Linked DNA regions of Homo sapiens. The protein of the gene in region 1 purifies or fractionates together with the protein of each later gene. This does not show direct contact. Each region holds a gene or a part of one and is shown on either strand. Other genes may lie near its edges. The genes, in order: TRAF3IP2, MAP3K7 and ELAVL1.

Region 1 (3,154 bases):
TGTTTAGTAGAGACAGGGTTTCACCATGTTGGCCAGGCTGGTCTTGAACTCCTGACCTCAGGTAATCCACTCTCCTCAGCCTCCCCAGTGCTGGGATTACAGGCGTGAGCCACTGCGCCCTGCCCTGACACCTCTTTACCTTCATGCTGATATATTTCATTGTCCCTTTCTTAAGGGTGCTTAATTCTAGCACCTTGGGTCAATGGTATGTGTTTGGGTTGAGGGTACTGGGAATAATTGTTGAGAATTATTGGAGCATGGCGATATACAAAATAGACCAAATTTTCATTGGTTTTGTTATTATTTTTAAATCTCCTTCAGACAATGCCCGTATTACCTGAGCCCAGCACAGGCCGCTCTCACCACCTGTCCCCTTGGTACACCATTGACTAGAAAATCATTTGTTGACATTTTGCTTTCATCCTAAGATTTGAAGTCCTCAAGGCAGTCCCTGCGTCCTTTTCATTTGGGCATCCTCAGTACTCAGTATGATGCCTGCCATGCAGCAGGTGCTGCTTCTAAGCACAATACCTAGAGAAGTCCCGTCCTATAGTCCCTAGGAGTTAGACTCAAAAGCAAAGGCCTTATGGTGGCCTACAGGGCACTATCCGATACAGCCCCTTCTACTTCCAGACCTCTGCACCTACTCACTCTGCTCTACTCACAGTGGCCTTGTTGCTTGTGAACAGACCCAACACACTCCCTCCACAGGGCCTTCGCACTGACTCTCCTATCTGCCTGGACCCAGACAACCACAGAGCTTGCTTCTTCCACTCTTTTAGGTCTTTGCTCATTTTCTCAGTGAGACCTCTCCTAAGCACCCCGTTTAAAACTGCAAATCTTTCACCCTTGCCCCAGCACTCCCTGTCCCCTTTCTTGTTTAATTCTTCTCCACAGCATACATCACTGTTGAACACACTATCCATTTACTTATTATCTGCCTCTCCCCACCAGAACATCCACTCCATGAGGGCAGTCTGACACTGCACCCCCAGGATCCCTGGCTAACAGTTTCTGCCTCTGCCTGATCACTGAGGTCTGATGGGCTCCTTCTACTGCAGGCCAGACCTGGGGCTGGAGTGAAAGAGTAATGAATTGATTTAAGCCTACGGCCCTGGCATACTTCTTCTGAAGTCACAGGGGAATTCACATCACTCTGTGTGACCTCTGTCCTACCCCTTTTATGTGAGGGTGGTGAAAAGCAAGTTGAAATGCAAAGGGTAGGTAGTCTGGGAGACTGACAGAAAATGCTGTGCACATGTGGTTTTTATAATGAGATATACAGCTTGTACCCGAAGCCAAGAACATTTCACATGCTAAACCTTTCCAAAAGCAAAACAGCACAACTCCCAGGATAGTTTGGTAGGAAACGCCCATGTAGGGAAAGCCAGAAATGTTTGGGAACTGAGCCTGGGATCTGGCATCCAGGTTTTTCTCTAATGACCTTTGCTCCTGTCATTCTGCCTCCCATAGGAGCATGTGCCCACCTGGCTTCAGAACACTCATGTCTACAGCTGGCCCAAGAATAAAAAAAACATCCTGCTGCGGCTGCTGAGAGAGGAAGAGTATGTGGCTCCTCCACGGGGGCCTCTGCCCACCCTTCAGGTGGTTCCCTTGTGACACCGTTCATCCCCAGATCACTGAGGCCAGGCCATGTTTGGGGCCTTGTTCTGACAGCATTCTGGCTGAGGCTGGTCGGTAGCACTCCTGGCTGGTTTTTTTCTGTTCCTCCCCGAGAGGCCCTCTGGCCCCCAGGAAACCTGTTGTGCAGAGCTCTTCCCCGGAGACCTCCACACACCCTGGCTTTGAAGTGGAGTCTGTGACTGCTCTGCATTCTCTGCTTTTAAAAAAACCATTGCAGGTGCCAGTGTCCCATATGTTCCTCCTGACAGTTTGATGTGTCCATTCTGGGCCTCTCAGTGCTTAGCAAGTAGATAATGTAAGGGATGTGGCAGCAAATGGAAATGACTACAAACACTCTCCTATCAATCACTTCAGGCTACTTTTATGAGTTAGCCAGATGCTTGTGTATCCTCAGACCAAACTGATTCATGTACAAATAATAAAATGTTTACTCTTTTGTAAGATTATGTTTTACTTATCTCAAAGGAGATACATATAATTTATAATGATATGGGCAGTTGCTTCCAGGGACATCAACAAAGCTGCTTAGATATAATATTAGATAAATATAACAGACCACTCTGTATTAATGGATTAAAGCCAGCTAGTTAAACAACCCTTTTTAACCATAATCATGGAAGCTTTATTCTTGCAATAAAGATTTTTAGGCTGGGCGCAGTGACTCACACCTGTAATCCCAGCACTTTGGGAAGCTAAGGCAGGCAGATCATTTGAGGTCAGGAGTTTGAGACCAGCCTGGCCAACATGGTGAAACCCCATCTCTGCTAAAATTACAAAAAAGTTAGCCGGGCATGGTGGTGTGCACCTGTAATCCCAGCTACTCGGGAGGCTGAGGCAGGAGAATCACTTGAACCCGGGAGGCAGAGGTTGCAGTGAGCCGAGATCATGTCACTGCACTCTAGCTTGGGAGACAGAGCGAGACTCCGTCTCAAAAAACAAACAAACAAATAAAAACACCCATTTTTAACAAAACAACTTTATATAGCATACAGCCATGATTCTAAATAGTATGATTATGGTTCTCAGGATCTGACTACATAGGTAAAAATATTTGCATATGTGTATGAAGTGTTGGGGGATGTAGGCTAGAATTGTAGTCTGTGTTCTAATTTTGGTTCTACCACCAATTAGCTGTATGACCTTTAGCAAGTCCTTTAACTTTTCTTAGATTCCAGGGACTCATTTATAAAATGACATGGACAAAAGCATCTCTAATCACTCTAAAAGATTTGAAGTCTAGGACCTAAATTCTAAATACTCTTTTGAGGAGTGACTGAGTTTTCATTTTCATAATTATGTCTCTCAGAGGACAAATTTACATTTTCTTAACAGAGACATTTTCTTCTTCTTTTTTTTTGTTTGAGACAGAGTCTCGCTCTGTCGTCCAGGCTGGAGTGCAGTGCTGCAATCTTGGCTCACTGCAACCTGCGCCTCCTGGGTTCAAGTGATTCTTCTGCCTCAACCTCCCAAGTAGCTAGACCTATAGGCGCCTGCCACCATGCCCAGCTAA
Region 2 (3,655 bases), about 21 Mb from region 1:
ATCATCAGTTTTAGCTTTCTACTGGATCATTCCTAAAACATACGTAGTCTGTATTTGCATTCACTAGCTTCTCTTTTCCCCTTCTTTCTTGAGCTGACTCCATTCAGACGTATTATGCCAGTACTTCAGAATTGTTCTTGTCAAGGTCACTAGTTATCTCTACATCACTACATTTAAGGAATCATTTTCATTTCTCATCTTGACTCTCAGTAGCACTTGACCTAATTCATTACTTTCTCCTTCTTACAGACAGCACTTTCTTCAGTTGGCCTCCGAGATACCATACTAGCCTAGATTCCATCTTACATCTCTGGCCGTCTGTTCTCAGTTTTCTTTGCTGGTTATTCCTCATCTCCCCAACCTAGAAATGTTGGAGTGCCCAGGGCCTGCTCATTTGGCTTCTTCACTTATCTGTCTGCACTCATTTCCTTGGTAACCTCATTCATTATTATGGCCTTATATACCATCTGTTGGCTCATAATGTTTTCCATCTTATACCTGAACTCTATACTCATATATCCAACTATTTCCTTTACATCTACTAGAAACTCAAACTTAATATTTTCCAAACTGAGTTCCTGATACTTCCTTCAAACTCACTCTTCCTTTAGTCTTTCCGCATCTCAATTAATAGCCCTCAGTTCTTCTACTAGCTCAGGTTAAAAACCTTAAGTTATTCTTGACTATTAGAAGACTATTTAGGCATCTTGGTTCCTTTTTTGTGCTATCCTTAAGTTTCTCTTAAAATGGGTTTGTTTGGATATCTTCATTAGCTTGAAAAGTCTTATTTTATTTCTGTTCCTGCCTGGCTAGTTTATAAAAGAATGTAAGTTACATAATACCAAGTGAAGCATTTGTATTATTTCCAGCCATTAGTCATAAATGTTTCTGCTTTTCCTAGGCTCATTCATGGACATTGCTTCTACAAATACGAGTAACAAAAGTGACACTAATATGGAGCAAGTTCCTGCCACAAATGATACTATTAAGCGCTTAGAATCAAAATTGTTGAAAAATCAGGCAAAGCAACAGGTTTGTTATGTTATTACAAGTAAAACTGGTAACCTTACCAGTAGTCACAATATTATACTAACTGAAATTAATTATTTACCATCTTCTATTTTATAAATCCTGAATTTTCTTCCTGAAACATGCAAAAGAGCTTACAAATAGAGACACGTAATGAGATTCTCCTACCATTTATTACCAAATGGTTTTTCCTTCTAATGATTGCTACCTTTGCCAATTCTAAATCCCTATCTATAATAATCCCTAAATGTAATGGTTGATGGTTAAAAATGTAAAATGGGTATATTTTGGCTGCGCTGCCCAGTTAGAGGAGTTGTTCTAAGTCTATCATTTCATGCTGTTCAGATTTATTATATTTTTGCCATTGTTGATTTTTAAAAATATTTCAAGGAGTGAGTTTATTCATTTTGCCTGAGGCATTTAGGTTAACGAATAATTGGGGCTTTTAGCTCCCAGTTCTAGTGACTGCCTTTTCATAAAGACAGTATCTGCAGCTTGCTTTCCCTTACCCCTGTAGCTCCCTCTCGTACAAACTTCCCTCTCCTTTCAGAGCAGAACAGGATCTATCAGAATCCCATTTGCCATCTTCCTCCTTTTAGGTTGCCTAAGATTGCTAAATCTAAAGAACTTCAGTAATTCAGATTGACCTGTAATTTTAACAGAGTGAATCTGGACGTTTAAGCTTGGGAGCCTCCCGTGGGAGCAGTGTGGAGAGCTTGCCCCCAACCTCTGAGGGCAAGAGGATGAGTGCTGACATGTCTGAAATAGAAGCTAGGATCGCCGCAACCACAGGTAAAAAGGAACTACAAGTCTGAAGAGTGAAAATGTATATAAGCCTTTTTGGCCATGGTAGTTTCAGTTGTCAAAGGTTTTTTGTGTGTGTCTTATATTTTTTTTTAAATAGGAAGTAGGTTTACAATATATTTTTCTAAGTTACTAGCAATAGTTTATGCATTTATCTCAAATTCCAAATAAGGAAGGTATGACTTGTAAAATTATTTGGATGAGAAAGTATGCCTTCCTCATTTACAGATTTTATCAAATGTAATTCTTTCTGCTCAAACATGAGTTGAAAGTCTAAGTGAGAAATTGAAATTCTGCCAAAACCAGAATATTTTGGGGATTTTCAGTGATACTACTAGATTTTTGTGCTGAACTCAAATAATAGCAAATATTTTGTTTCAAATTTAACAGAAAAATGTATTCCAGATCCATGTATGATTTGACCTTCTATCTGCTTCTTCATTCCAGTGACAAAATAATAGCTAAGCTGGTTGTGGTTAATTTTTTTAATTGTAAAATAAAATATCATAATTTTATTAGATCTTGAAAAAGCTAGCATTTAAATTCCATTGTTCAGTTCTTAAAATTATTAATCATGGAAGAACTGGTCAGCACAAAAACAATTACATGTTTTGTTACTTAAGTAAACTGACAACCTAATTCTGTGACCAGGTTTCATTTTAGTAATGCTGGTTTAATTTGGACGTTTTTGGTTTTTTGCTGATTCTTTCCAGGGATCAGGGGGAGCTGATTTTAAAAGTAAACACGTTTCTGTTGTGGAAAATGTGGAAATGTAAACAAGCCAAAAAAACTTACATAATTACCCCACTCAGAGATAAACACTTAACATTTTTGTGTATTTACCCCATCTTTTAACTATGTATGTGTATAAATGTATATATTCATGTGTATTTGCATCTTTTTTAACTTAGCTAACCAATTTTTTAGGTCTTTTTTTCACTTATTTGGTTTTTTTCTAAATAGAATATTCTCATTGTGTGTGGAGCTCTTTTCAGAAAGAAGTTGTCAAGATGGACCATCATACTATACTTGTCTTCAACTAATCATGATCATTGATTTTATCAGCTACTATTAGAATCCATTAGATATAACAGAATATCCGAAATAACAGTGTCTATAACACATAAGCATTATTTTTCACATATAAACAAGTCTGGAGGTAGTGGGCTCTGTGATCTTGAAGTAACTGGTCTCCTATTTCTGTGCTGTAATCCCTACTGTATAGCTTCCATTCTCAAAGTTATCCTGTGCTCCAAAATGGCTGTTGAAGTTCCATTTCATCACTTCTACATTCCAGGCAATAGGAAGGAAGACATGGGGGCAGGGCAAATAGACATCCAAGTTCTTTGAAGGAACATTCCCAGATGCCTCTCTTAACAACATCCACACATCATTGGTCAAAGTAACATGGTCGAATGGCTACACGTAGCTCCAAGGGAAGAGGAGATCTGCCCTCTTTTATCTGATGACTTTTCTGTCCTAAATAAAATCAGAGTACTATTGCTAAAACAGAAGGGAAGAGTGGAAACTGGCAGAAGATAGCTGTGTCTGCCACAGATGGGTCTTCAGAAACTATCAAGTTGAGTAGAAGTCACCAGCCACTGACAAGCCCATGAGTCTCCATGAGTCACAAGTATTTCTTTGGAGCAGGGTTGTCTCACTGTAGTGTCAGATGAACCCTACTCACCGGGACATACCCTCATGCTTTGAGGAACCCTTTTCACTTCAGGGATGTTGTTCAGGATAGATCTGCCACATACTAATTGCTGTCTCAAAACTGAAAATTGTTATAATAATGGTTTCATGTCTTCGCTAGTATCAT
Region 3 (3,655 bases), on another chromosome or scaffold:
CAGGCATGCACCATCACGCCCAGCTAATTTTTGTATTTTCAGTATAGACAGGGTTTCACTATGTTGGCCATGCTGGTCTCAAACTCCTGACCTCAGGTGATCCGCCTACCTCGGCCTCCCACATTGCTGGGATTACAGGCATAAGCCACCACGCCAGGCCAGGAAGGTAGCTTTTTAAAGATGAGCCAGCCTGGTGTAGTGGCTCTCACCTATAATCCCAGCACTTTGGGAGGCCCAGGTGGGAGGATGACTTGAAGCCAGCATGGGCAACAAAATGAGACCCCTGTCTCTAAAAAAATTTAAAAATCAGCCAGGTATGGTGGCACACACCAGTAGTCCCAGCTACTTGGGAAACTGAGGCAGTTTGAGGCTGCAGTGAGCCGTGATTATGCCACTGCACTCTAGTTTGGCAGCAGAGCAAGACCCTTTCTCAAAAGAAAAATAAGTAAAAATAGAAGTGAGCTGGGAGGCCAGGCATGGTGGCTCACACCTGCAATTCCAGCACTTTGGGAGGCCAAAGTAGGAGGATCACTTGAGCTTGGGAGTTCAAGACCAGCCTGGGCAACAAAGAGAGACCCCCATCTCTTTAAAAAAAAATACTAATTTTAAAAAATGAGCTGGGAAGTGAAGGAGAGGACACTAGTGCCCTGCAGAGGGAACAGCCAAAGCAGAGGCCTGTAGCATATTGGCAAGAAGCTGGAGTGAGCGGGAAGGGAGGGTGGCGACTGAGGCTGGAGAACCACCTGGGTCCGATTGTGAAGGGCCTTGCCAGTTTGACAGTTGCATTGTCATGACAACTTGAGGCCTGGCCCTGCCACTTATTAATGGCATGCCTGACCGTGAGCATCATCGTGTGACCGCCGAGCCTCAATGGGTGGTGACCACTGACAGGGAATACCAGAGGGGTGAGCATCTTGATTGCAGGACAGTGCAGGCCTTGCACCTCGAGAGACAGAAGTGGCTACGACTTGGGAGTCAGTGATAATTGAGTGGTGACAAGGCCCAGTTGTGGTTGGAGCTTGTGGGATAGAAGCTGATTTGGCCCAGGATTGATGATGCAGATTTGGAGAAGGTCAAGGGAAGGGCCTCCAGAGAGTGGGGTGGGGGCCCAGAAACGTCATGAAACTGCTTTGCAGGGCAGGTTGTTGGTTTCTCCCGTGTTACTAGTTGACCAAGAACTTGACCTGCAGGGGCTGCTCAGCCTTGACTCAGAGTGTCAGGAGGAACAGGGCCGCAAAGCAGAAGTTCTCTTTTTAAACCTTTTAAAATTTATTTTTATTGTGGTTTTGTTGTTGTTTTTGAGGCAGGATCTCACTCTGTCGCCCACGCTGGACTGCAGTGGCACAATCATAGCTAACTGCAGTATTGACCTCCCAGGCTCTAGTGATCCTCCCAGCTGAGCCCCCCGATTAGCTGGGATTGCATACAGGTGTGCATCACCATTCCTGGGTAATTTTTAATTTTTTTTTTTTTTGTAATGATGGCATCTCTCTGTGCTGCCCAGGCTGGTCTTGAACTCCAGGCTTAAGCAGTCCTCCCACCTTGGCCTCTGAAAGCGCTGGGATTAAAGGCATGAGTCGCCACACTCAGACAATTTATTTTTAAATTTGCATGTAGGAAAATTCATTTTTTCGAGTAGAGTTCTCTGAGTTTTGACAAACGGATAAAGTTGTTTGATTACCACCATAATAAAGATTGGAAAGTTCGCTCTCCCACAAACAGAAATACTCCCTCCTCCTGTCCCTGTGTAATCGACTTTTCCCCTCACTCCCTAACCCCAGCGACCACAGATCCATCCCTATGGTTTTGCCTTTTCCAGGAAGGCACAGAAATGATGTGGCAAGATGTGTTTGAGATTCACACAAGTAGCATGAATTGGTGATACCTTTTATTGCCAGGTGGTATTCTGTTGTATGGTGTATCCCAGTTTATCCATGAATGGCTTGAAGAATATTTGGGTTGTTGTAGTTTTGGATGATTATGAATAATGCCGCTCTGCACATTTATATACAGATTTTTGTGTGAATATAGATTTTCCTTTCTATTGCCTTAATACTAGGAGTAGGATTGCTGGATCCCATGCTAAGTGTATATTTCACCATAAGAAACTGCCAATCTGTTTTCCAAAGTGGCTGTCACATTTCACATTTTTGCATTCCCACCAGCAGTGCATGAATATTCTGGCTTCTCCACATCCCTGCCAGCACTTGACATTGTCTGTTTTGTTGCTGTTGGTTGTTTTTTGTTTTATTTTGCTTTAGCCATTCTAATAAGTGGGTAGCGGTGTCTCGATGTGGTTTTAATTTGACTAATGATGTTGAGCATCTTTTCATGTGCCTGTCTGCCATCCATATATATTCTTTGGTATAGTATCTGTTCAAATCTTTTGCCATTTTTGAAACCAGGTTGTTTGCTCATTATGTTGTTTTTGGTTTTTGGAGATGGAGTCTGGCCCTATCGCCCAGTTTGGAGTACAGTGGCGCCATCTCGGCTCATTGCAACCTCTGCCTCCCAGGTTCAAGCGATTCTCCTGCCTCAGCCTCCCCAGTAACTGAGATTACAGATGCCCACCACCACGCCTTGCTAATTTTTTTTTTGTTGTATTTTTGTAGAGATGGGGTTTCACCATGTTGGCCGGACTGGTCTCAAACTCCTGACCTCAGGTGATCCACCCACCTCGGCCTCCCAAAGTGCTGGAATTCCAGGCATGAGCCAGCACACTAGCCTGCTTCTGTTTTGAGAGCTTAAAAAAAAGTGTTCTGGGCCAGGCGTGGTGGCTCACGCCTGTAATCCCAGCACTTTGGGAGGCCGAGGTGGGCAGATGGGCAGATCACGAGGTCAGGAGATGGAGACCATCCTGGCTAACACGGTGAAACCCCGTCTCTACTAAAAATACAAAAAATTAGCTGGGCATGGTGGCGGGCGCCTGTAGTCCCAGCTACTTGGGAGGCTGAGGCAGGAGAATGGCATGAACCCGGGAGGTGGAGCTTGCAGTGAGCGGAGATCATGCCACTGCACTCCAGCCTGGGTGACAGAGCAAGACTCCATTTCAAAAAAAAAAAAAAAAGGGTTCTGGGTTGGGTGAGGTGGCTTACGCCTATAATTCTAATACTTTGAGAGGCCAAGATGGGAGGATCACTTGACACCAGGAATTCAAGACCAGCGTGGGCAACATAGTGAGACCCTATCTCGACAAAAAATAAAAAATTAGCCAGAAGGCTGAGGCAGGAGGATTGCTTGAACCCAAGAGTTTGTGGCTGCAGTGAGCTATGATTATGGCATTGCACTTCAGCCTGGGCAGTGGAGTGAGACTTTGACTCAAAAAAAAAAAAAAGTGTTCTGACTACAAGTCCCTTTTGCAAATGTTTACTCCAGTTGGTGGATTTTAATTCTCCTAGCAGTATCTTTCACAGAGCAAAAGTTTCAAATTTTGATGATATCCAGTTTATCCATTTTTTTTTTTTTTTAACGAAGTGGGCTTTTGGTGTTGTGTCTGAGAAATCTTTCCCCAGCCCAATGCCACAAAGATTTTTCTCCAAGAAATTTTATGTTTTTACATTTTAAAACAGAGGTCGGCAGATTTTTTTTGTGTGAAGAGCCAGATGGTAAATATTCTCAGCTTTTTTGGCCATACGGTTGCTACTACTTAACTGTG

Evidence for each region.
Region 2: the proteins of TRAF3IP2 (region 1) and MAP3K7 purify together in Homo sapiens (affinity purification with western blotting, with the first as the bait; one study listed by BioGRID). This does not show direct contact.
Region 3: the proteins of TRAF3IP2 (region 1) and ELAVL1 purify together in Homo sapiens (affinity purification with western blotting; one study listed by BioGRID). This does not show direct contact.

Annotation. Positions count from the first base shown.
Region 1 is NC_000006.12:111,557,871-111,561,024, reverse strand, and holds part of TRAF3IP2 (E3 ubiquitin ligase TRAF3IP2), read left to right. Parts: intron 1-1,473; coding exon 1,474-1,620; 3' UTR 1,621-3,154. UniProt on the Homo sapiens protein: E3 ubiquitin ligase that catalyzes 'Lys-63'-linked polyubiquitination of target protein, enhancing protein-protein interaction and cell signaling. Transfers ubiquitin from E2 ubiquitin-conjugating enzyme UBE2V1-UBE2N to substrate protein.
Region 2 is NC_000006.12:90,545,424-90,549,078, reverse strand, and holds part of MAP3K7 (mitogen-activated protein kinase kinase kinase 7), read left to right. Parts: intron 1-901; coding exon 902-1,032; intron 1,033-1,691; coding exon 1,692-1,821; intron 1,822-3,655. UniProt on the Homo sapiens protein: Serine/threonine kinase which acts as an essential component of the MAP kinase signal transduction pathway. Plays an important role in the cascades of cellular responses evoked by changes in the environment.
Region 3 is NC_000019.10:7,995,596-7,999,250, reverse strand, and holds part of ELAVL1 (ELAV-like protein 1), read left to right. Parts: intron 1-3,655. UniProt on the Homo sapiens protein: RNA-binding protein that binds to the 3'-UTR region of mRNAs and increases their stability.